Linked DNA regions of Homo sapiens. The protein of the gene in region 1 purifies or fractionates together with the protein of each later gene. This does not show direct contact. Each region holds a gene or a part of one and is shown in the gene's direction. Other genes may lie near its edges. The genes, in order: ADIPOR2 and HACD3.

Region 1 (10,842 bases):
AAAGGAATGGGCACAGTAGCTGGTGAGTAAGTGGCAGTCTTTCCATAGAGTAGAGAGAGAGCCAAGTTTCCATGGCTTACCCATATTGTCACAAGACCCTGTAGTGGGTAGGGTGGAGGTCATTGTCTGAAGGTGAATCTTGCTGATTTGCAGCCTGGATTCTTGCTTTATAGGGTAATAGACTGGAAGAACTGCTGAGCCCACATTAGCTGGAAGATAAACCATGTGCCTGCCATTTTTCCTTACATCTTTCTGTCTAGCAGAAGCAAGTTAGTCAAGATTAAGTGATCCTTGTGGTGTGAGCTCTCGGGGCTATGAGACATTAAAAGAAGCAGAGTGCAGAGGTTGACAGACTTCCTACAGAGGGGATATCGGATTCCTGATCCCTTTTCCTCTAGAATCTGATGCGGGAGGGACCATGAGGAAACGGGAGGAAAGGGCTCTGAGGGACTGAAAGGGTGGTTAGGGCTGAGCTTCTTTACCATCTCTCTGCAGCATGAGAAGGAAGATGGATTAGTCACTAACTGTCTGACAGGAGATAGCCCCTGGGGATAGTCATGTACTGGCTTTGAGTAGATGCCAGGGATTACTAACTAATTCATGAAATGCTTTGTGTCATTTTGTTTGATCTTCATGATTTCCCTATGAAGTAACTGAAGCGCTATTTTACAAATGAAGGAGCTGCAGGTTGGAGGTTTTTTAATTAATTAAATCTCATATAGCTAGTTAATGCCAGGGGTCCACAATTTTCTGACTCCTGTGCTCTTTCTTTTCTGCCTCATCATATTTGCATAGTGGGAAGAGAAGAAAGAGTAAGATGGAGGGAGAGATTTTAGCAAAAGGCACAAAAGTATGATTCTATGTAATTCTGTTTTTACCAATAGGAATATTAAATATAAAAATGTTCATATTAACACCACAGGGATTTATCAGAGGTAAAGTCTGTTATATAGGTAGGATGAAGGAGGTCAGTATGAGTGAGACTTTGGAACCTTCATCCCACCATTAGCCAGGTTGAAACAAAGTTTGAAACCACTCTTTTAGGGCATTTCCTATAAATTTGTTTACTCTTTCCTTTTCCTAAGGCCCCCACTTAAAAGTATATTTTTTCTTTCTTTTTTTTTTTTTTTTTTTTTGAGGCAGAGTTTTGCTCTTGTTGCCCAGGCTGGAGTGCAATGGCGTCATCTCAGCTCACCACAACCTCCGCCTCCCGGGTTCAAGCAATTCTCCTGCCTCAGCCTCCCGAGTAGGTGGGATTACAGGCATGTGCCACCACACCCGGCTAATTTTTTGTATTTTTAGTAGAGATGGGGTTCGAGCTCCTGACCTCAGGTGATCCACCCACCTTGGCCTCCCAGAGTGCTGGGATTAAAGCCTTAGCCACCATGCCCGGCAAAAATATATTTTTCATCAGTCTTTAAAGAACTCAGAATATAAGACATTATACATTTTGAGATGTTTGCCTTTTTAAAAATGAATTGTTTTTCCCATTATAAAACAGTGTGATAAGACACAGTTGTTAGGGGTCAGTGTTGGTAAATTGACAACTAAAATCACAAAGATGTTTGATAATACCTCTCTGCCAGGTATGGGAAGGTCGGTGGCGAGTGATCCCTCATGATGTACTACCAGACTGGCTCAAGGATAATGACTTCCTCTTGCATGGACACCGGCCTCCTATGCCTTCTTTCCGGGCCTGTTTTAAGAGCATTTTCAGAATACACACAGAAACAGGCAACATTTGGACACATCTCTTAGGTATGTAATGTCAGTGATGTAATGAGCTGGTGATTCACTTTCTTCCTTTTTATTTTCATGTATTTGAGGGTAAGCACAGAACTTCAGAAATGTATTTGGATTTGCCATTTTGTTTTCTGAATTTCTAATGATGAATTTTCTGACTGGTTTACTCGTAGTTTATCCTGGTTTGCACTATGATTTTGTTATAACTTAAGTTATATTTCTTTCTACTAGATTTTCAGATCTTGTCCTCAAACCAGGCCAAGTAAAAGTTGCTATACAAAATGTGGTTTCATATTGTAGTGACCACTGAGAAGAAAGTATTATTTAATAGAAGTAATCTGATCTTTTAAAATGCATTACTTATATGCACTGCTAATTTTCAGTTTGGCCTGAAGTAGAATATGGACTGTAATTTTTTCTCCATAATGATTGTATATTAAAGAAAGAATACTGTAGAGGAAAGAATAGTCTTTCCAACAAATGGTGCTGGGATAACTGAGCCATATGTAAAAGAATGATCCCGAACTCACATATGCAAAAGTGAACCCAAAATGGATCAAAGACCCAAACATAAGAGCAAAAACTATAAAATCCTTAGGAGAAAACATATATAAATCCTTGTAAGTTTGGATTAGGTGACTGTTTCTGAGAATTGCCACCAAAGAAAAAATAGATAAATTGGACTTCATCAAAATTAAAAACGTTGGTATATCAAAGTGCATTATCAAGAAAGTGAAAAGACAACCCATAGAGAAGAGAATATTTACAAATCAGCTAGTTGGTAAGGATCTAATAAATAACTCCTACAACTCAACAATAAAGACAACCGATTTTAAAAATGGGTAAAACATCTGAATAGATGTTCTTCCAGAGAAGATCTAAAATGGCCAATAAGCACATGAAAAGATGTTTGTCTTCGTTAGGCATTTAGGAAAACGCAAATCAAATGCTTTGAGAAATGCAGTGAGAAATCTCAACACTTCACACCCACTAAGATGGCTATAATCAAGAAAATGAAAAATAACAAGTCTTGGCAAGGATGTGGGGAAATTGGAACTTTCATACGTTGCCAGTAGGAATGTGAAATGGGGCAGTCCCCATGGAAAAGTCTGGCAGTTCCTCAAAAAGTTACATAGAGTTACCAGAAATCAACTCCTAGTATATTACCCAAGATGACTGAAAACATGTTCACATAAAAACATGAACACAGAAGTTTGCAGCAACATTATTCATAATAGCTAAAAAGTAGAAGCAACCCAGATGTCTATCGACTGGTAATGGAGAAACAAAATATGGTGTATTCATACACTGGAGTATTATTTAGCTGCAAAAAGGGATGAAGCACTGATACATGCCACAGCATGGGTGAGCCTTGAAAACATTTGCTAAGTGAAAGAAGCCAGACACAGAAGGTCACATGTCGTTTGATTCTACATGCATGAAATGTCCAGAACAGGAAAATCCATAAAGACAGTAGATTAGTGGTTGTTTAGGGCTGTAAGGAGTGGGGAATGGGGGATGACAGCAGATACAGTACTTCTGTTTGGGGTGATGAAAATATTTTGGAATTAGTTAGTGGTGATGGTTGTACAACCTTGTGAATATACTAGTTTCTGGCCTTACTCCATTTGATTTGCATTTCTTATCACACATTTGATTTCCATGGTGCCTCTAAGTTCCTGCCTGCTAGTATAGTGAGAGGAGAGTAGAGGGTCAAATCAAGTTTGTTGCTGACTTCTAATTCAAGGGTAATTTTTAATTAAAATGATAAAACAATTACTTAGCAAACGTTGAAGTTGAAATTTCTGTGCCTGCCTTGTGTTAGGTGGCCCCTCCCTAAGCAATAGGAACATGGCATCTTTCTGTGTAGAACAGTGTAAGAATTGGTTAGGAAATGGCCTGAGTAGGCATTTTGTCCTTAACTCTTGAATCTCCTGAACCAGCTGATGAGGGCCAGAGAAACAGCATGACACTCCCTGACAGCTATTGGTAGAGGAAAGCTGTATTTCTTGGCAGGGTTTAGGGGTATTGGAATTCATTGTAAAAACAAAAGCAAAAGCACAATGGACCTTTGAAAGCTGGACTATGAGGTATGTGCCAAAAACTGTATAAATGAAACTATTCTACATCTAGAGGTAGAAGTGGCTTCATTATATCTTCTAAGAAGTAGCAGCAGTGTCTGATTTCTTTTTAGATTATGCCCTTAGATAAGTTTTTATATTCTGTATATTCAGTTTATGAAGCTGAAGTATTTCTGATACCAACAATGTTGGAAGTAAACCACAATTTTGGATAGGCTTCAGTTATTTGGAAGATTTTTCTCATTGAACTTTTGATTCAGATATTGTTGTAATGCAGAAGGATTGAAAACAGAATCAGTTATAATACTGTCTCTTCTAAAGGGTGATATTTTATCTATTTTCTGTGCTCTTTTTCCTAGGTTGTGTATTCTTCCTGTGCCTGGGGATCTTTTATATGTTTCGCCCAAATATCTCCTTTGTGGCCCCTCTGCAAGAGAAGGTGGTCTTTGGATTATTTTTCTTAGGAGCCATTCTCTGCCTTTCTTTTTCATGGCTCTTCCACACAGTCTACTGCCACTCAGAGGGGGTCTCTCGGCTCTTCTCTAAGTAAGTATCTGTAAAGTCCGTATTTTGGCCAATGATTTAGAGGTAGTGCGTTAGGGAAAAACATTCAGCAGAGTTGGCAGAATTCTTAATATCATCTCATGCAAACTTTTTTTTTTTTAAAAATTAAAGAGCAACCCAGTTTGGCTCTTAGGTGTCGTTGATGGCTTATGTCATGAGGGATTAATTGGAACCTGTAGTGGCCAGTAGTTTTTAAATTACTGCATTAAATGGATTTTTTTTTTCTGTCATAGACTGGATTACTCTGGTATTGCTCTTCTGATTATGGGAAGTTTTGTTCCTTGGCTTTATTATTCTTTCTACTGTAATCCACAACCTTGCTTCATCTACTTGATTGTCATCTGTGTGCTGGGCATTGCAGCCATTATAGTCTCCCAGTGGGACATGTTTGCCACCCCTCAGTATCGGGGAGTAAGAGCAGGTAAGAGCACGGGGAGGTTCTACATTCGACATTCATTTATTCACTAGTTAAATTCACTATTTATTAAAGTTCTACCATTTGCCAAACATTATGCTGTGTATTTGTGATGCCAAGATGAAGAAATCATAGTTCCTATTGTTGGGGGTTTTTTTATGTAGTAGTCGTAGTAGTTGTTGTTGTTAGTAGTGTTTATTAATTGTCTTAAAGCATTAGGGTTGAGGGGTCATGGTGAGTATGAGGTGATATAATTTGGGACTGTTACTTACTTGAATTTATGGCTAAACACCATCCAGAAAGCGGTAGTCTATAACTTTTGTAAACAATGATTTCTCTTACTCATTGTGGAGTGTACTTTTTGTAGTGATTCTTTTTTTGTTGTCATTTTCTGTTTTGTTTTATATTTTTATTTTATAATGGATAATCTGCTTAAGGCTTCACCCCCATGCTGATTATGTTTTGTTAAAGTGGGCACCATATCTCCCTTCTGATGTAGGGATAAAGGGGCTTTTTATATTTAGGATAATGCCTGTTTAGCTGGAGATCATAGAGAAAGCCACAAGCCCCTCAGTGCCTTGGCTGAGTCTTCTTGTAGGACATGGAATTAGCAGAGATGTTCTTGTCTCCTACTCAGTGTCAAGCTCAGTGCCCACTGAGAATGAACAAGGAGTGTTTTTCCTTTCGTCCTTAAACCCCCAAAACCATTTAGTATTAAAATCTAAACCCTGGATCATCCGGGGGTACCTGGAAGGTTAGACACAGAAGTAACCTCATGTCAGTGACCACTGTTAAAACACTCTGCCGTCCTCCTTTTTGTGTTCATATGAGCAAATGAGCATTGGTCAGGGTCAGCTTTCAACAGTACTTGAGTAGTACAGTGGTGTTAAGCCTGCTTGAGCACATGAGATAAGAATGTCTTTGCTGAGTACAGCTGAGCATTCTGTTATTTACATACATCAGAAGAACCAAATTCCTGAGCCTTTGACTTAGAGAATGATAGGCAGAAACCATTAGCAGCCTTTGCTTAGCATGTAGAGGAAAAGAAAAAGTGAATAGTGCAAAAGTCTAGCAAATCTTTCCTTAGAGGAGCAGAGGTAGGAAATAGTTTTTCTTTAGGTCTGCTTGGTTCTTACCTGTTGTGAGAGCAGCATTGCCATTTTCCTCTTCTCTTTTAGATGTCCATTTTATTTGTGAGTATGCATCCCATAGCTGTGCTTACATATATTGCTGTATACCAGCAGTTTATTTGGTAATGTCCAAAGCAAGTAATAGGTTCTTTATCTGTTGAGAAAGCTTACCAAATGACAGCTTGTTTTGCAAGGGTCATTGTTAACTCTGTGTCAAAATGTAGGAGCAGTTACTGGCAGAGGCAGGGAGCTCCTGTGTTGCTTTGGCTGATACACGGGTTTCAAAGTGGATTTAGATCAGTGGACTTCACATTTTTTTTTCCATCATGACATTTTCTATTACAGTCCTGAACACGTGTATCTATACATAAGTTCATGTATATATAAATTACAAAACTTTAACAAAATAGTATTTAATCCTCCACGTATGTTACAGTCTGATATTTTAAATTTTATTCTAGTTCATTTAAAAAAATGCTGGTTGAGACTCATTTAATTGATCTTAGAACTTAGGTCATATCCAGAAGTTTAAAAAAACATTAGATGCTTCTGGAGGCAGTAAGGCAGTAGGGCTGTGGCTGAGTGATTTGCTAGACTTTTGTACTTGATTGCTATTTAGGGGTCTGGGAGCTTATAGTATTCTCTCCCATCCCCCACCCCCATTAGGTCATTTGTTAAAGGCATTTAACAATTTTTAAGTGCCCAGTTATAGGTTATAGATTTAGATTAAATTTTTTCTTCTTTTTTCTTTTCTTTTCTTTTTCTTTCTTTCTTTCTTTTTTTTTTTTTTTTTTTTTTTTTTGAGATGGAGTCTTGCTTTGTAGCCCAGGCTGGAGTGCAGTGGTGCCATCTTGGCTCCTGACCTCAAGTGATCTGCCTGCCTCGGCCTCCCAAAGTGCTGGGATTACAGGTGTGAGCTGAGCCACTGCGCCCAGCCTTAGATTCCTATTAAAAATAGGTGATGCCAGGTGATGTGATCATTCATCGCCTCTCCACCCCAACAACGCCTGCTGCTTCAAAGAGAAGATGGGATACGTAAAATTGCTTGTATTGTAACCTGTGTCTGTAGAAGGACAGGCTAGGACAGTTTAAATAAACTCCTGGAGCTGTCCTTTCCGAAAACATTTAGCAACATTAATTCAAAACCCTTGAAGACTGCTGACTTACTAAGCTAAGCCTCTCTTAGTGAGGCTCATTGCTTTTTTTTTTTTTTTTTGAGACGGAGTTTCACTCCTGTTGCCCAAGCTGGGGTGCAATGGCGTGATCTCGGCTCACTGCAGCCTCTGCCCCCGGCTTCAGGTGATTCTCCTGCCTCAGCCTCCCGAGTAGCTGGGATTACAGGAGTGCGCTACCACGCCTGGCTACTTTTTGGATGTTTAGTAGAAATGGGGTTTCACCCTGTTAGCCAGGCTGGTCCCAAAGTGCTGGGATTACAGGTGTGAGCCACTGCACCCGGCTGGCTCCTTGCATTTGTAAATCTTTAGAACATAGCTGTGTTGTCTTGTGTGACAGTGTCCCAGAGTTTGAAGAACCTTCTTTTTCCTTTAAAACTGGAAGCTAATTTTATATGCTACTTTGAAATATTCAGTTTACAGAGTTAATGGTGCTGTGCTGTAATACTGACTTCTGGCTCTTTGTTTCTCTTCTGCATTACTTTACTCTCTTCTTGTGACTCCTAGGAGTGTTTTTGGGCCTAGGCCTGAGTGGAATCATTCCTACCTTGCACTATGTCATCTCGGAGGGGTTCCTTAAGGCCGCCACCATAGGGCAGATAGGCTGGTTGATGCTGATGGCCAGCCTCTACATCACAGGAGCTGCCCTGTATGCTGCCCGGATCCCCGAACGCTTTTTCCCTGGCAAATGTGACATCTGGGTAAGTATGTCGGGGTGACTGAGTGTGTAGGTATCTGCTCATGAGTTATTGGCATCCTGCAGAGTGATGCAATAGAAAAAGTTTTAGACACAAAGTCAGGAGAGTTGTATCCTGGTCCTAACTCCCTATTGAGCTTTCTCTGGACAATAAGTACAATAATAACTAACATTTAGTGAGCACTTCCTTGGTGCTCAGCATGGTACAGAGTGCTTTGCACGGATTACCTCATTACATACATTAGCCCTATGTGGTATGATAACTCTTGTTAATGTCTTCATTTTACAAAGCAGGAGACTAAGGCTTAGGGAGGTGAGGCCACTTGTCCAAGCCATGTGGCTATTTAAGTGGTAGAACAGGAATTTGAATTAGGCTAGTTTTAATATCAGAATCTGTGCTCTTTTTGACAATGGCAAGTCATTTTGCCATTCTTTGTCTCAGTTTCCTTATTTATGAAATGAGGATGATAGACCAGATTTTCACCAGAGCCCTTTTTAGGACCAGATTTCTATCAGGGTCTTTTTTTATACCGAAATTTAGTGATTTGTAATGGGAGACTGAGTGTATGTATGTCTGGTGGAAGAAGAGGGATTGTGAAGAAGAGGGAACTGGATTGAACTGGATTGTGGTCATTGGTAAGAGAGGAGGAAAGAGAAGAGGGAAAAGAAAATATAAGGACTGATATAGATAGAAAAACTTATAACCAAAGAGGGCCTGAAATATTTTCAACAAGACAACATTGGAAATACGCTTAATGTGAAATCTGACCTTTGTAATTCTGTTCCTCAGCCTATTGCTGATTATTATAGACTAACCTGATGATCTCATCTCTTTAAAGTTTAGTTTAGCTATCTGTAAAATGAAGATGATCTTGAACTTAAGCAATCTTTCTAGCTTCAAATTAGCTAATTTATCTTTCTGATTCATCATCATCATTTTAACATTGGTATGGAGGGGTTTTTGCCCTTTATCCCCTTTCTTTGGGGGAAATTAATCCCCTTTGGTTTCCTAGGAAACATCTCTTGGGATGTGACTTGATTTCTTCTAGTTTTTGCTTCTAAAATCAGTGTTTTTCTCTTGATAAATACTGCTTTGCCACTGTACTTTTTCATTTTGAGATTATAATGACAGAATAGTGTAATTTTTGAAGTGCAGCGAGCAATTGATTACCCTTCTTGAGATGTGGAATAGCATTCAACAGAACAGGTAAAATCAGAAATAATGTCACTTGCTTGTAGACCAGCTTCTGACTTGAGAAGTAAAAGGGCCTGTTTGCTTAGTTTTTGACACATTATGTAGTTCATGAAATTTGAGAATCGTAGCACTGAAGGAAACTCTGGGGACCATATGTTGTGACATTCCACACACCATCCTGGAAGCCTCTTTAGTTTTTCTAACAGAGAGCAACATTTAAATGACCATAGCTCTAGTCCTCTTGTCCATGACAAAATGTCCATCAGCAGTGAGTAGGAAAAGGACTGTATGTGTAATCATAGCCCATGGCTAGGTGTCAAGGGATCCTTGGGACCTTTGTGGCCTGTTAGCAAGAGAGTCTGTGTGTCATTTGCCACTTTAGCAAGAGAGTCTGTGTGTCATTTGCCACTGGTTTCAGTGTTAAGTTTGTAGATTTTTATGTGTAGAGCTTAGTGGCAGCACCTTGGTTTCTTTGGGAACAGCTGGCTTTCAGCTCAGCAGAATGTGTTACACCTAATGGATGTTCCAGGATCTGTGGACGCCTTGAATTTGAGCTCTGTCACATCCATTCCCTGCCTTCTGCTCAGCATAAACCAGGATTAAACGATCCTAAGAATCTTTAGCAGTCTTAATAATGTATGGGTTTCTCTACCCCCTTCTCTTCTTTTTTCCCCTCCAGTTTCACTCTCATCAGCTGTTTCATATCTTTGTGGTTGCTGGAGCTTTTGTTCACTTCCATGGTGTCTCAAACCTCCAGGAGTTTCGTTTCATGATCGGCGGGGGCTGCAGTGAAGAGGATGCACTGTGATACCTACCAGTCTCCAGGGACTATGACCCTAAACCAGGGCCTGCGGCACTTGCGGGCCTCCCTGCTGGCTACTGATGCCAGTACCAGAGGAGCCCCAAAACTTTGACAGCCTCGTGGGCTTTGTGACGGCCCAGTGGCTCTGCGTGGTACATGACTGAGAAGAGAAAAACAAAAATAAATCATACCTCAAAGGATGGAGTGCATCAATTGGGAGAAAAGGAGACATAGCCCAAACCCTGGCTTATTCTTGGGATCTACTGATTGCGGGCTCTGCAAGACCCTTGGCAAACTGGCTTCTGATCCATATCATATTTATTTGTAGAAGATGGCGAAACAGTTTAGCTGGTGGTTCTTTCTTCTCCCTTTCTCTCTCTCTATGACAATAATACAAACCAATTTAAGTGAACATTTATATCCGATAAGGGGTGGGAGTGTGATTTTAAATGCTCTTTTGGGAGAACAAAGAAATTAATGTAAATAAGATTTCTAACTGTTTAAATAAGACTTTATATAAATGTTTAAAACATAGGGGTAAGGGAGGGAGGGAGAATTTTTGTATAGAATGAAACATGCAAGTACCACACACTGTTTGAATTTTGCACAAAAAGTGACTGTAGGATCAGGTGATAGCCCCGGAATGTACAGTGTCTTGGTGCACCAAGATGCCTTCTAAAGGCTGACATACCTTGGACCCTAATGGGGCAGAGAGTATAGCCCTAGCCCAGTGGTGACATGACCACTCCCTTTGGGAGGCCTGAGGTAGAGGGGAGTGGTATGTGTTTTCTCAGTGGAAGCAGCACATGAGTGGGTGACAGGATGTTAGATAAAGGCTCTAGTTAGGGTGTCATTGTCATTTGAGAGACTGACACACTCCTAGCAGCTGGTAAAGGGGTGCTGGAGGCCATGGAGGAGCTCTAGAAACATTAGCATGGGCTGATCTGATTACTTCCTGGCATCCCGCTCACTTTTATGGGAAGTCTTATTAGAGGGATGGGACAGTTTTCCATATCCTTGCTGTGGAGCTCTGGAACACTCTC
Region 2 (10,954 bases), on another chromosome or scaffold:
AATGTACAGCCTCTGTAAACTAGACAGAACTCGTCCGTGGTTGATAGTCTTCTTATCAGCAGAAGGTTACTGAAATAAGTCTCTTGTCCAATCAAAGCTATAGTTATGGCTTGTGGAACAAGGGGTCAGTTGGCCAGTGTCTGGTGAGGGGTAAGCTAGAAATTTTAATATTGATTATCTTAAGGCTAGTGCTTGTTTAGCTGCTAGAGAAAGAAAAACCTTGTGGCAGTTAAACATGGTTTATTCTTTAAGTGTAGGGGTGTGTGACTTAACTCTTGCCTAGCATGGCTTTAGGTCTTATTTATAATTTGGTATCATATTGCCACAAAGAGTCCGTTCCATCAGTCTTTAAACACATTATTTTTTATTATTTTTTGTTGTTGTTCCATCAGTCTTATGCTCTCTATTTTCACATTAATGCTGGTCAGTTGTTGTGTCTCAACCGCAAAAGGGAGGGGGTATAAGGAGGCATATGTGACCTCCCATCCCGTCATGACCTGGAACTCAGTTTTTAAGGTTTTTCTGGTGTCCCCTTGGCCAAGAAGGGGTCTGCTCAGTCAATTGTGAGGCTTAGGATTTCATTTTTAGTTCACACTTCTGAACTGTGGATTGACAGGTAGAGGGGAAGGTTTTCCCAGTAAAGATGGCCTACAATACCCATTCTCCAGGCAGAGTTGGGAGGCTACATGTGTATGATCTGGCTGTGGAGGATTCCCCATTAGATACCTGCACTGATCCAGTCAGTCTCCCTCTCCACACTTAGCTTTGTACCATCTAGAGAAACCTGACTTTGCTCAGGGATAACTGGCTGGGTGACCCTGGGTGGTTTGAATCCAGCCAAATTCTACAGCTCATTTTCTAAAACCTCTTCCAGAATAGAAGATTTTATACATAGATAACAACAAGGATGTGTATGACCCCTTGCCAAAGGCAGGAAATCAGCCTTCAGCCCTGGGAATGAGCTTAATCCATGGCAAGTACTCAGCAAATGCTTCCTGTAGTTAGTGGTGACTATTCTCTGAGAAGGGAGAGCTGGCCCTTGGCCAAATGAGGCTGGGAAGGCTGCATCTAGAAGGTAGGACAAAAAGACAAGGCTAAATTTGCATTTTCATTTGACCGATAGTATCATAAAACTCTTAGCCCTACCTATTTCAGCTTGGCACTGCCACTTGGCTCTGCCTTTTAATCTCCCCTGCCACCTTCCAGCGTATTTTGGTTTGCTTTTTTTTTTTTGAGACAAGGTTTTGCTCTGTTGTCCAGGCTGGAGTGCATCGGTGCCATCACAGTTCACTGCATCTCTGACCTTCCAAGCTTAAGAGATCCTCCCAGCCTCCTTAGTAGCTAGGACTACAGGCACATGCCACCGTACCTGGCTAATTTTTAAAATTTTTTATAGAGATGGGGTCTCACTGTTTTGCCCAGGCTGGTCTCGAACTCTTAAACTCAAGCGATCCTCCCACCTCAGCCTCCCAAAGCATTGGGATTACAGCATAAGCCACCATGTCCAGCCCCACCCTGGAGTTTTATAGTTCACCAGAATGATACTCTTTCTTCTCTCCATTTCTATTTTTTTTCTTGTTAGATTTCTCTTGCAGAGAGGGGTCCATAATAGTGGGGTCTCTTTGCAGAAAAATTTAGAAACAGCTGATAAGAGCATTAGAGGGAACCAAATCCAACTCATCAAATTTACCTAATTTGATGAATGTGGAAACTCAGGCCTAAAGAAGTCATTTTGCAGTATGTTACTAGTGGTCAAACCAGGCTGGATAGGCCCACTTCCACTGGACCTTTCTTATGAAGCATCTGAGGCAAAATGCCAACATTCAGTCTTCTTCTATATCAATAGCTTTCACCTTGGTAGAAGTCAGCTGATAAGCCTCAGGTTTCAAATACGCTGAATTAAAATTATTCTATTTTTTATTACCCACCTACCAGGATGGCTAAAATTAAAAACATTGGCTGGGGGTGGGGGTGGTGCTGGAAAAAAAAAATTAGGCTGGGTGCTGTGGCTCACGCCTGGGAGGCTGCAGCAGGAGGATCACTTGAGCCCAGGAGTTTGAGACCATTTGAGCCTAGAAGTTTGAGACCAGCATGGCCAACATGGTGAAACCCCATCTCTACTAAAAATAAAAAAATTAGCCAGGTGTGGTGGTGCACACCTATAATCCCAGCTACTTGGGAGGCTGAGGTAGGAGAATCATTTGAACTGCGGAGGTAGAAGTTGCAGTGAGCTGAGATCGCGCCAATGCACTCCAGCCTGGGCAACAGAGCAAGACTCTTTCTCAAAAAATAAAATAAAATAAAATAAAATAAAATTAAATTAAAAAGTCTGAAAATACTAGGGATATAGAGCAACTAGAACTTTCAAACATTGCCGTGGAATGTAAATTGACCAAAACACTTTGTAAAACTGCTTAGCACACCTACTAAAGCTAATCATACACCTGTGTAACCTAGCAATTCCCTTCATAGGTATTTATTCCAAGATAATTAAGAGCATTTATCCCCAAAAGACAGGTACACAAATATTCAGAGCAGCTTTATTTGTAATAGCTAAAAACTAGAAACAACACAAATATCCATCGATAGGAGAATGGATAAATAATTTGTGGTATACTCATATAGTCAACTACTACAGAGCAAAACCAAAAACTAAAAGAATGAATTACTGATTCACTCAGCAACATGGATAAATCTCATACACATTATGTTGATGAAAGAAACCAAGGCCCGGTGCGGTGGCTCACATCTGTAATCCCAGCACTTTGGGAGGCTGAAGCGGGTGGATCATGAGGTCAGGAGTTCAAGACTAGCCTGGCCAAGATGGTGAAACCCCGTATCTACTAAAATACAAAAATTAGGGGCCAGGCACGGTGGCTCATGCCTGTAATCCCAGCACTTTGGGAGGCTGAGGCAGGCAGATCACGAGGTCAGGAGTTAGAGACCATCCTGACCAACATGGTGAAACCCCGTCTCTACTAAAAATACAAAAATTAGCTGGGCGTGATGGCGGACAGCTGTAATCCCAGCTACTTGGGAGGCTGAGGCAGGAGAATCGCTTGAATTGGGAGGCCGAGGTTGCAGTGAGCCGAGACTGCACCACTGCACTCCATCCTGGGTGACAGAGCAAGACTCTGTCTCAAAAAAAAAAAAAAGAAAAAAGAAAAAGAAACCAGACACTGTAGGTTCCATTTATATAAAATTCAAGAACAGAACAGACAAAAAAGACTCTATGGTGATATATCAGGATAGTAATTACTGAGAGGCAAAGATATTTTAACATGAAATAACCTCTGGGATACTGGAAATATTCCAGATCTTGATCTAGGTGATAATTACATGGATATATACATATAGAAAAATTCAGCTTAAACTGAATATTTAAGATTTACCCATGTTCTATATGTAAACTACATCTCAATGTTTTTAAAAAGTGCCCCATATTGCATCTGCATTGTAGTAAACACAATACAATAAAATACCTTTATCATAAAAAATATTTTATCGTTAAAATTCAAGACTGTCAACGTCACTGCTTTCATCAACTCATTCTTGGCAGATTGCATTGGTCTCCCATTGCTTTGCCTACTACCAATTCCTCCTCCTCTCTGACAGGTCTTTCTTGCTGAGCACATTTGATTTTACTAATCTCCAGGTTAACAAACTTCCTTGGCTCCCATGTGTCTGTGGGATACAGTATAGGCACCTCAGTGAAGCAAACAAAGACTTTCCTAATGCACCCTCTGCCTTTCCAGATTCAGGGCGACCTCTCTCCTCTATGCCTTTAATCCCTAGCAGCAGAACCTCCTTCCACAACCCTCTCTCTTTTTTAAATTTTAAGACAGGGCCTCACACTGTCACCCAAGCTGGAGTGCAGTGGCGCGATCTCGCCTCCTGGGCTTAAGCAATTCTCCCACCCTAGCCTCCCGAGTAGCTCGGACCCCAGGGGCGCGCCAACCACGCCCTGCTAACTGTTGTATTTTTTGTAGAGACAGTGTATTGCCATTTTTCCCAGGCTGGTCTCAAACTCCTGGGCTCCAGCGATCCTCCCGCCTCGTCCTCCCAAAGTGCTGGGATTACACGCGTGAGACGCTGCACCTGGTCCACATCTTTTCACCTGTGAACGAAGCAAGCGCCCTGTGCTTCCACGGCCTACCTGGTTCTTACTCAGTCAAATTCCTACTCGCATTTCACCATCCCGTTCTCAAGGGTTGGCTCTCAAATGTCTGACAATGGTTCCCACGGCCCTCAGTTCCTATCATCATAAACTCTTTGTGAGCTCAGCACATTCATTATATGAAAACTCTCTATATTTTATTCTGTCCACTCTTGAGCTAAATGTTTCCAGAGAGCTAGCAGAATTTGTTTTCAGCGTTAGATCCCTCTGCTAAACAAACGGGTGCTAATAGAATCACTTTGCTAAATAAATGGGAGCTAACAGGATTGAATATGAGTTCCATTTTTGTCCCAGAGTTCTAGTTTTCATATAAATATTTCTTCCCATTAAATTCTTCTCTGCAGAAGAACTTGGGGATGAAACCCGATACAGACAAGACAGCTTAAGTAAGACATAAATGAGTGTTGTCTCTAGTTTGAGTTTCCTATTTTTTTGAGACAGTCTCCTGCACTGTCCAATAGAATAGCCACCAAAAATATGGATATTTAAGTTTAAATTAGAAGTGAATAAAGTTGGCCGGGCGCGGTGTCTCACGCCTATAATCTCAGCACTTTGGGAGGCCAAGGCGGGCGGATCACCTGAGGTCGGGAGTTCGAGACCAGCCTGACCAACATGGAGAAACCTCGTCTCTACTAAAAATACAAAATTAGCCGGTGGCGCATGCCTGTAATCCCAGCTACTCGGGAGGCTGAGGCAGGAGAATCACTTGAACCCGGGAGACAGAGGTTGCGGTGAGCCGAGATCGCGCCATTGCACTCCAGCCTGGGCAACAAGAGAGAAACTCCGTCTCAAAACAAAACAACAACAACAACAAAAAAAAAACAGAAGTGAGTAAAATTGAAAATTCGGTTATTCAGTTCAAGTACTCAAAAGCCTCATGTGGCTAGTGGCTACCGTATTAAAGAGCGCAATGTGCAATATTTCCATCATCACCTACAGTTTTATTGGGCAGCGCTGCCCTGGTCTTTATTTTCCCTTGTTGGAACGCTCTTCCACGCTGCTCCCACACCATGTCCCCTATCACCATTATTATCCTCATTTCATCTGTAATTACTTGCATCTTTTAATAGGCTGGGAGTTCTAAGACAGAAGGGACTGTGTCTCACTTCTGTTGTTCCAGTGTTTAGCTTTGAAACCCAGGCACACAGTAGGTACTCAGTAAACAGAATGCGAAGGACCGTCCAGAGACACCAGTCCCAAACCCTTTTCCAGGCTGATCGGTCCCCCATAAGTCTCCAGCCTTTTTTATTTTAAAGCTTATTTTAAAGCATGTCCCTGAAGACGAGTGGGGAGAGCAGACCACCCGCTGATTCCAATTCCCTAGGCGGCCGCGGCGAGCTGCGGCGTCTCTGTGCCCCGGCCTGCCCCTATCCCGCCTGCGCCCCGCCCCCGCCCGGCTCGCGCCAAGGCCCGCTGCTGGCGCCGCCGCCATCCCGGCGCGTCACTGCGCAGGCGCGGCCCGCGAGCGTGGGGTATCTCGAGGTGCCGGGTTGCAGGCGCTCAGGAGCGCTAGGGTTTGAGGCCTGCTTTCTGCTCGCGCCAGCAGAGCACTACCTGAGGCAGCGAGGCGCAGCGAGCCTAGCCTCCCCGCGCCCTGGGCAGTGTGGCCATGGAGAATCAGGTGTTGACGCCGCATGTCTACTGGGCTCAGCGACACCGCGAGCTATATCTGCGCGTGGAGCTGAGTGACGTACAGGTAAAGGCCGGGTCGGGCGGCGGGAAGCGCGCGGGATCGCGGCTCCGGGTACCCGCCAGGACCCCTGCCCCCTTTGTCCGCGTGCGCGCCGGAGAGCCTGCAGTGCGCCAACAAGGTCGGCGACGCGGTGCGCTTACGGCGTGCTGGCGCTTTTCGAGGCTCATCTGCAGATCTCGGGCCGGGGGCACAACCCCCCGAGGGCTGCAGGAACCTTCGGGTCCCCAGAGAGCTCGGCCTGGGCCTCTCAGGCTACCCCGGGCCTCTTCTTTGTTCGCAGTCGGCGGCCTTCATGGAGCCCAGGCCCGGCCCTGGCTGCCTGGCCGTCGGGGTTCGAGTTGGCTGGGGCCCTTCGAGATGTGGGATGAGCTTGTTGGGTCAGGGGTGCGGTTGTGACAGCGGCTTGCTGGGCCGTAGCTGAATGCCTGCCGCTGGCCTGAGAGGTCCAGCCAGGCCCCTCGGACGTTACTGAGGCTGGGCGCTGCCGGAGGTGGGGGAGGGGGAGGGGTGGGGGGCCACACCCACCTCGCAACCGTTCAGTGATGGAAATCATTCTCATTACTTTTAATTTTAAAATTCACAAGAGCTGGAGGAAGTGATTTCCCCCTCTGTTCTGAAGGTTGTGAGCTCAGGTTTGCTGAGTTGCACAGAGAACTTAAAAAGTTCTTAAGTTACATTAAGCATTTCTGTTTGAGCTCCTTGGCCCTTAATGTAAGCAAGCTGAAGGCACGTAGTAGTGGAGACTCCAGGACCTGTGTATCCTCATGTCTCTGTCCAAACTAAAGATTCTGGGCTTTGAGAAACTGGAATTTTCATTCTGGAAGGTTCTTTCTTTCTTTCTTTCTTTTTTTTTCTTTTCTTTTTTTTGAGACGGTGTTTCGCTCTTGTCGCCCAGGCTGGAGTGCAATGGCGCGATCTCGGCTCACCGCAACCTCTGCCTCCCGGGTTCAAGGGATTCTCCTGCCTCAGCCTCCCGAGTAGCTGGGATTATAGACGCGTGCCACCATGCCCGGCTAATTTTTGTATTTTTAGTAGCGACAGGGTTTCACCATGTTGGCCAGGCTGGTCTCGAACTTCTGACCTCAGGTGATCCACCCGTCTCGGCCTCCCAAAGTGCTGGGATTACAGGCATGAGCCACCGCGCCCAGCCTCTGGAAGGTTCTTTCTACAGTCATTCTTATTGGAAACTTCTCCTTAACATCTATGGCACTTTGTCATCTCTTTCACTCCATTTAACTCTCTCTGCCTCTGAACAGGCATCTGCTTGGATCACCCGTGGATCCGGTAAAATGTAGGTGCTTTCTGAGTGTCGACTTGAATTTATTGAATTTAATATAATCTTTGCTTCTGGAATATAAACAGTTTTCCTGTTGAAAGATGAAGACAGTAGTGGCCAGAATGCCTTTAAATAGGCTATGACATTGCATGGTGTGTCGTTTAATGTGTTCATCCAGACTGAGGCTATACTTTTGGGTCAGAGTATGAGTAAATGTTCTGTGCTGTCTCCCTCTACTGCTCCACGGTGGTTTAATAGAATAGGAAAAAACAAACAAAATCTTTTGTAGATGGGGATCAAAGTCCCCGTCTAGAGAGGGTTCTTCCAGCAGTCAATAAAAAAGTACGGAACAGGCCAGGTGCTGTGGCTCACGCCTGTAATGCCAACACTTTGGGAGGCCGAGGCGGGAGGATCACCTGAGGTCAGGAGTTCGACACCAGCCTGACCAACATGGAGAAACCCCATCTCTACTAAAAATACAAAATTAGCCGGGCATGGTGGTGCATGCGTGTAATTCACTATGTTGGCTACTCGGGAGGCTGAGGCAGGAGAATTGCTTGAACCCGGGAGGCGGAGGTTGCGGTGAGCTGAGATGGTGCCATTGCACTCCAGCCTGGGCAACAAGAGTGAAACTCTGTCTCAAAAAAAAAAAAAAAAAAGTAACCATCTAAAAATTTTTGGGGAAAAATAAATCATTTTTCCCCCTTATTGAGTTTTTGTTTTCTCTGGGGTTTCACATCTGTAGTTTTGAGGCACCCATATTTCAACTACCATTAGTTTAAAAGCATGATGTTACCCTCATAAAAGAGTGTTTACATGTGTTAGCAATCCTCTAACACATGTAAGGTAGTACAGATTTACAAAGGTGAGTCAGACCCAGCTTTTCAAGGGCATGCTATCTAGAAGGAGGCGTATCATATACAAACAAAAAGTTTTGTGTAGGAGTATGTTTATTGGTAGAATTGGAGTTGGATGTTGAACCAGGTATCTGGTGTTAAAGGAATTTGTTACCTTTCTTTCATTTAGTTAGTGATGACTTCCAGAAATGAGAATTATTTTTGTCAAACTAAGACTGGGAGAATGTTCCAGAAAGAGAAAGGCATAGACTTTTAGACACTTGTAATCTCTGACTTAAGCCGTGTCAATGCCCAAAGGCCACCAATAACACACCCGTAGTTAAACAAGTTGGGTTTATTACTCATTGCATTGAGAGAGCATACTCCATGGGGAACCCTGGGGTGTTTCATTAGGAGGGTGTTAGAACTGATTATAGGATTTGGGTGTTGGTGATTAGGGGAGGGGAGGGTTAAGGAGGTTGGGTTTCACTTCAGATAAGATCCTGTAAGAAAATATGGGAGTTTCGTGGTTGGGTATCTGAATAAATCTTACCTGTAGGGCAGGGAGACTAGTATAAGAACAAAACTGTAATTGCTACAGGAGTAGCAGTCACTCAATTTGGCCAAAGGGTGTTTGGTATTTCGTGAGTGGCATAGCCACTATGTATTTGTCTGTGCTTATAACAAAATTGTGAAATGGCCTTTGTCTCATTTTATGAGGATTTCAGAGTAACCTTGTCTGAGGTTGGTATTCTGTGAGATTGTTTATGTCCCATAGGAGAATAACATGGCCTGGCTGTGAGTGCTATGCCTGCTTCTGGAGTGTCACGGGTTGCCTTTTTTTTTTCTTTCTCAACTGATTGCTCTATGCAGGGCCTGTTGAAACCAGTGGTTTTACATGTGCAGATTTGTTATTTAAAAAAAAAAAAAAGAAAGAAAAGCAGCCGGGTGTGGTGGCTCATGCCTGTAATCCCAGCACTATGGGAGGCCGAGACGGGCGGATCATGAGGTCAGGAGATCGAGACCATCCTGGCTAACACGGTGAAACCTCGTCTCTACTAAAAATACAAAAAAATTAGCCAGGCGTGGTGGCGGGCGCCTATAGTCCCAGCTACCAGGAGGCTGAGGCAGGAGAATGGCGTGAACCCGGGAGGTGGAGCTTGCAGTGAGCCGAGACTGCGCCACTGCACTCCAGCCTGGGGGACAGAGCGAGACTCCGTCTCAAAAAAAAAAAAAAAGAAAAGAAACCAGTGGTTCTGGCTCTGGATGAAGCACTTCATTTATTTGTTCAGTAAAAATCGTTTATGGAGTACCTACTCTTGTCTATCATTAAGCTAGGTGTGGGGTTCTTGGACAGCACTTTAACACTCTCTGCTTTCTATAGCATGACCCACAGCTTATGTGTAAGTGTGAGTTTTAAAGTGTTAAGTTCCAGTTTGGAGGCATTGGCTCTGTCTCCCTCCATCCTGACACAGGGAACTGTCCAGTCATCACATCTCTATTCTGTCTTGGATGCTGCAGGGCTAGTGACTATGAGAGAACACGGCTGATGTGAGGAGAAATGGTGGACAATAAAGACTTCAGCAGTGGCATCGTCTGTGCTTGAGGTGAACGGTAGCAAAGAGGCCAGCTAAAGCAGGGTTACTTTCAAGATTGAATTTACTTTCACGATGAACATAATGAACGTGTTTGTCCCGAGAAACATAGTTGTTAAAGCATTGGTTTATTTACAAGGTGCTTGTTTGTTTTGGGTGTTGTGAGCAGAGAACAGAGCGTAGCTGTGTTTGAGAGCTGTTTGAAAGATATTGTTCCTGTCCTTACCTAACAGAGTCTGGTGGAAAGAGTGCTAACTGAACACATGAGATTGGGTCCTTGTTCTTATTACACTTATGCTCTAGTGACCATGATTCACTTAACCTTTATGAACCTGACGCTCTTCATCCAGACAGATATGAACAGTAGTGCCTAACTCATAGGACCATTTTGAGATTTGAATTGGAAAATGGATTTGAAAGTGCTTTGCAAATTCTAGTGTGCAGTTCAAGTGAGTGATTATGATGATTGCGATATTAAACCTTAGATGAGAGGGATGGTCACAGAGCAATGGAAGAATAGAGCCTATTAGCAGACCTATTCATATATGAAAAGTTAAGGTATGACAAGAGGCGCTCTTACAAATTAATGAGGAGAGAATGACCCATTCAGGAAATTGTACTGGGACAATTGGTAATCCAAATGGCAAAAAGAAAATAAGATCCTGCCTTATGCCATACACAAAAATCAGTTTCAGGTGCATTAATGACCTAAACGCATAAAGAAAAACTACTAAAAAGAAATATAGGAGACTATCTTTATAATATTGGAAAGGGGGAGAATGTGTTAAGCAAGATGCACAAAACACAAACCCTAAAGACAAAGATTGGCACATTTAAGACAAACTTGAAGAAGACATTTGCAGTGCATATCATTGAGAGATGACTAATATCACGACTATTTAAAGAACACCTACAGACCAATAGGCAAAAGACGTATTACCTAATAGAAAAAGGGGCAGATAATATAAACATTTCAGAGTAAAAGGAAACAAGAATGACCAATAAGTCTGAAAAGATGCTTGACTGCAATTATGACCAGGCACATGTACAGGCATACCTTGTTTTATTGTGCTTTGCTTTATTGTGCTTTGCAGATAATGCGGTTTTGACAAATTGAAGGTTGTGGCAACAAAGTCTGTTGGCGTCATTTTTCCAACAGCATGTGTTCATTTAGTGTCTCTGTGTTGTATTTTGTTAATTCTTGGAATAGTTCAGATTTTTTCATTATTATTATATCTGTTCTGGTGATCTGTGATCAGTGATCTTTGATGTTAACTTTTTTTTTTTTTTTGAGGCAGGGTCTCACTCTGTTGCCCAGGTTGGAGTGCAGCAGTGTGATCATAGCTCACCGTAGCCTTGAACTCCTGGGTTTGAGCA

What was found.
Region 2: the proteins of ADIPOR2 (region 1) and HACD3 purify together in Homo sapiens (affinity purification with mass spectrometry, with the first as the bait; 2 studies listed by BioGRID). This does not show direct contact.

What each region holds. Positions count from the first base shown.
Region 1 is NC_000012.12:1,776,268-1,787,109, forward strand, and holds part of ADIPOR2 (adiponectin receptor protein 2), read left to right. Parts: intron 1-1,586; coding exon 1,587-1,758; intron 1,759-4,183; coding exon 4,184-4,370; intron 4,371-4,621; coding exon 4,622-4,809; intron 4,810-6,744; coding exon of another isoform or gene 6,745-6,843; intron 6,844-7,612; coding exon 7,613-7,806; intron 7,807-9,676; coding exon 9,677-9,805; 3' UTR 9,806-10,842. UniProt on the Homo sapiens protein: Receptor for ADIPOQ, an essential hormone secreted by adipocytes that regulates glucose and lipid metabolism. Required for normal body fat and glucose homeostasis.
Region 2 is NC_000015.10:65,524,846-65,535,799, forward strand, and holds the start of HACD3 (very-long-chain (3R)-3-hydroxyacyl-CoA dehydratase 3), read left to right. Parts: upstream 1-5,617; 5' UTR 5,618-5,786; coding exon 5,787-5,873; intron 5,874-5,948; exon of another isoform or gene 5,949-5,988; intron 5,989-10,954. UniProt on the Homo sapiens protein: Catalyzes the third of the four reactions of the long-chain fatty acids elongation cycle. This endoplasmic reticulum-bound enzymatic process, allows the addition of two carbons to the chain of long- and very long-chain fatty acids/VLCFAs per cycle.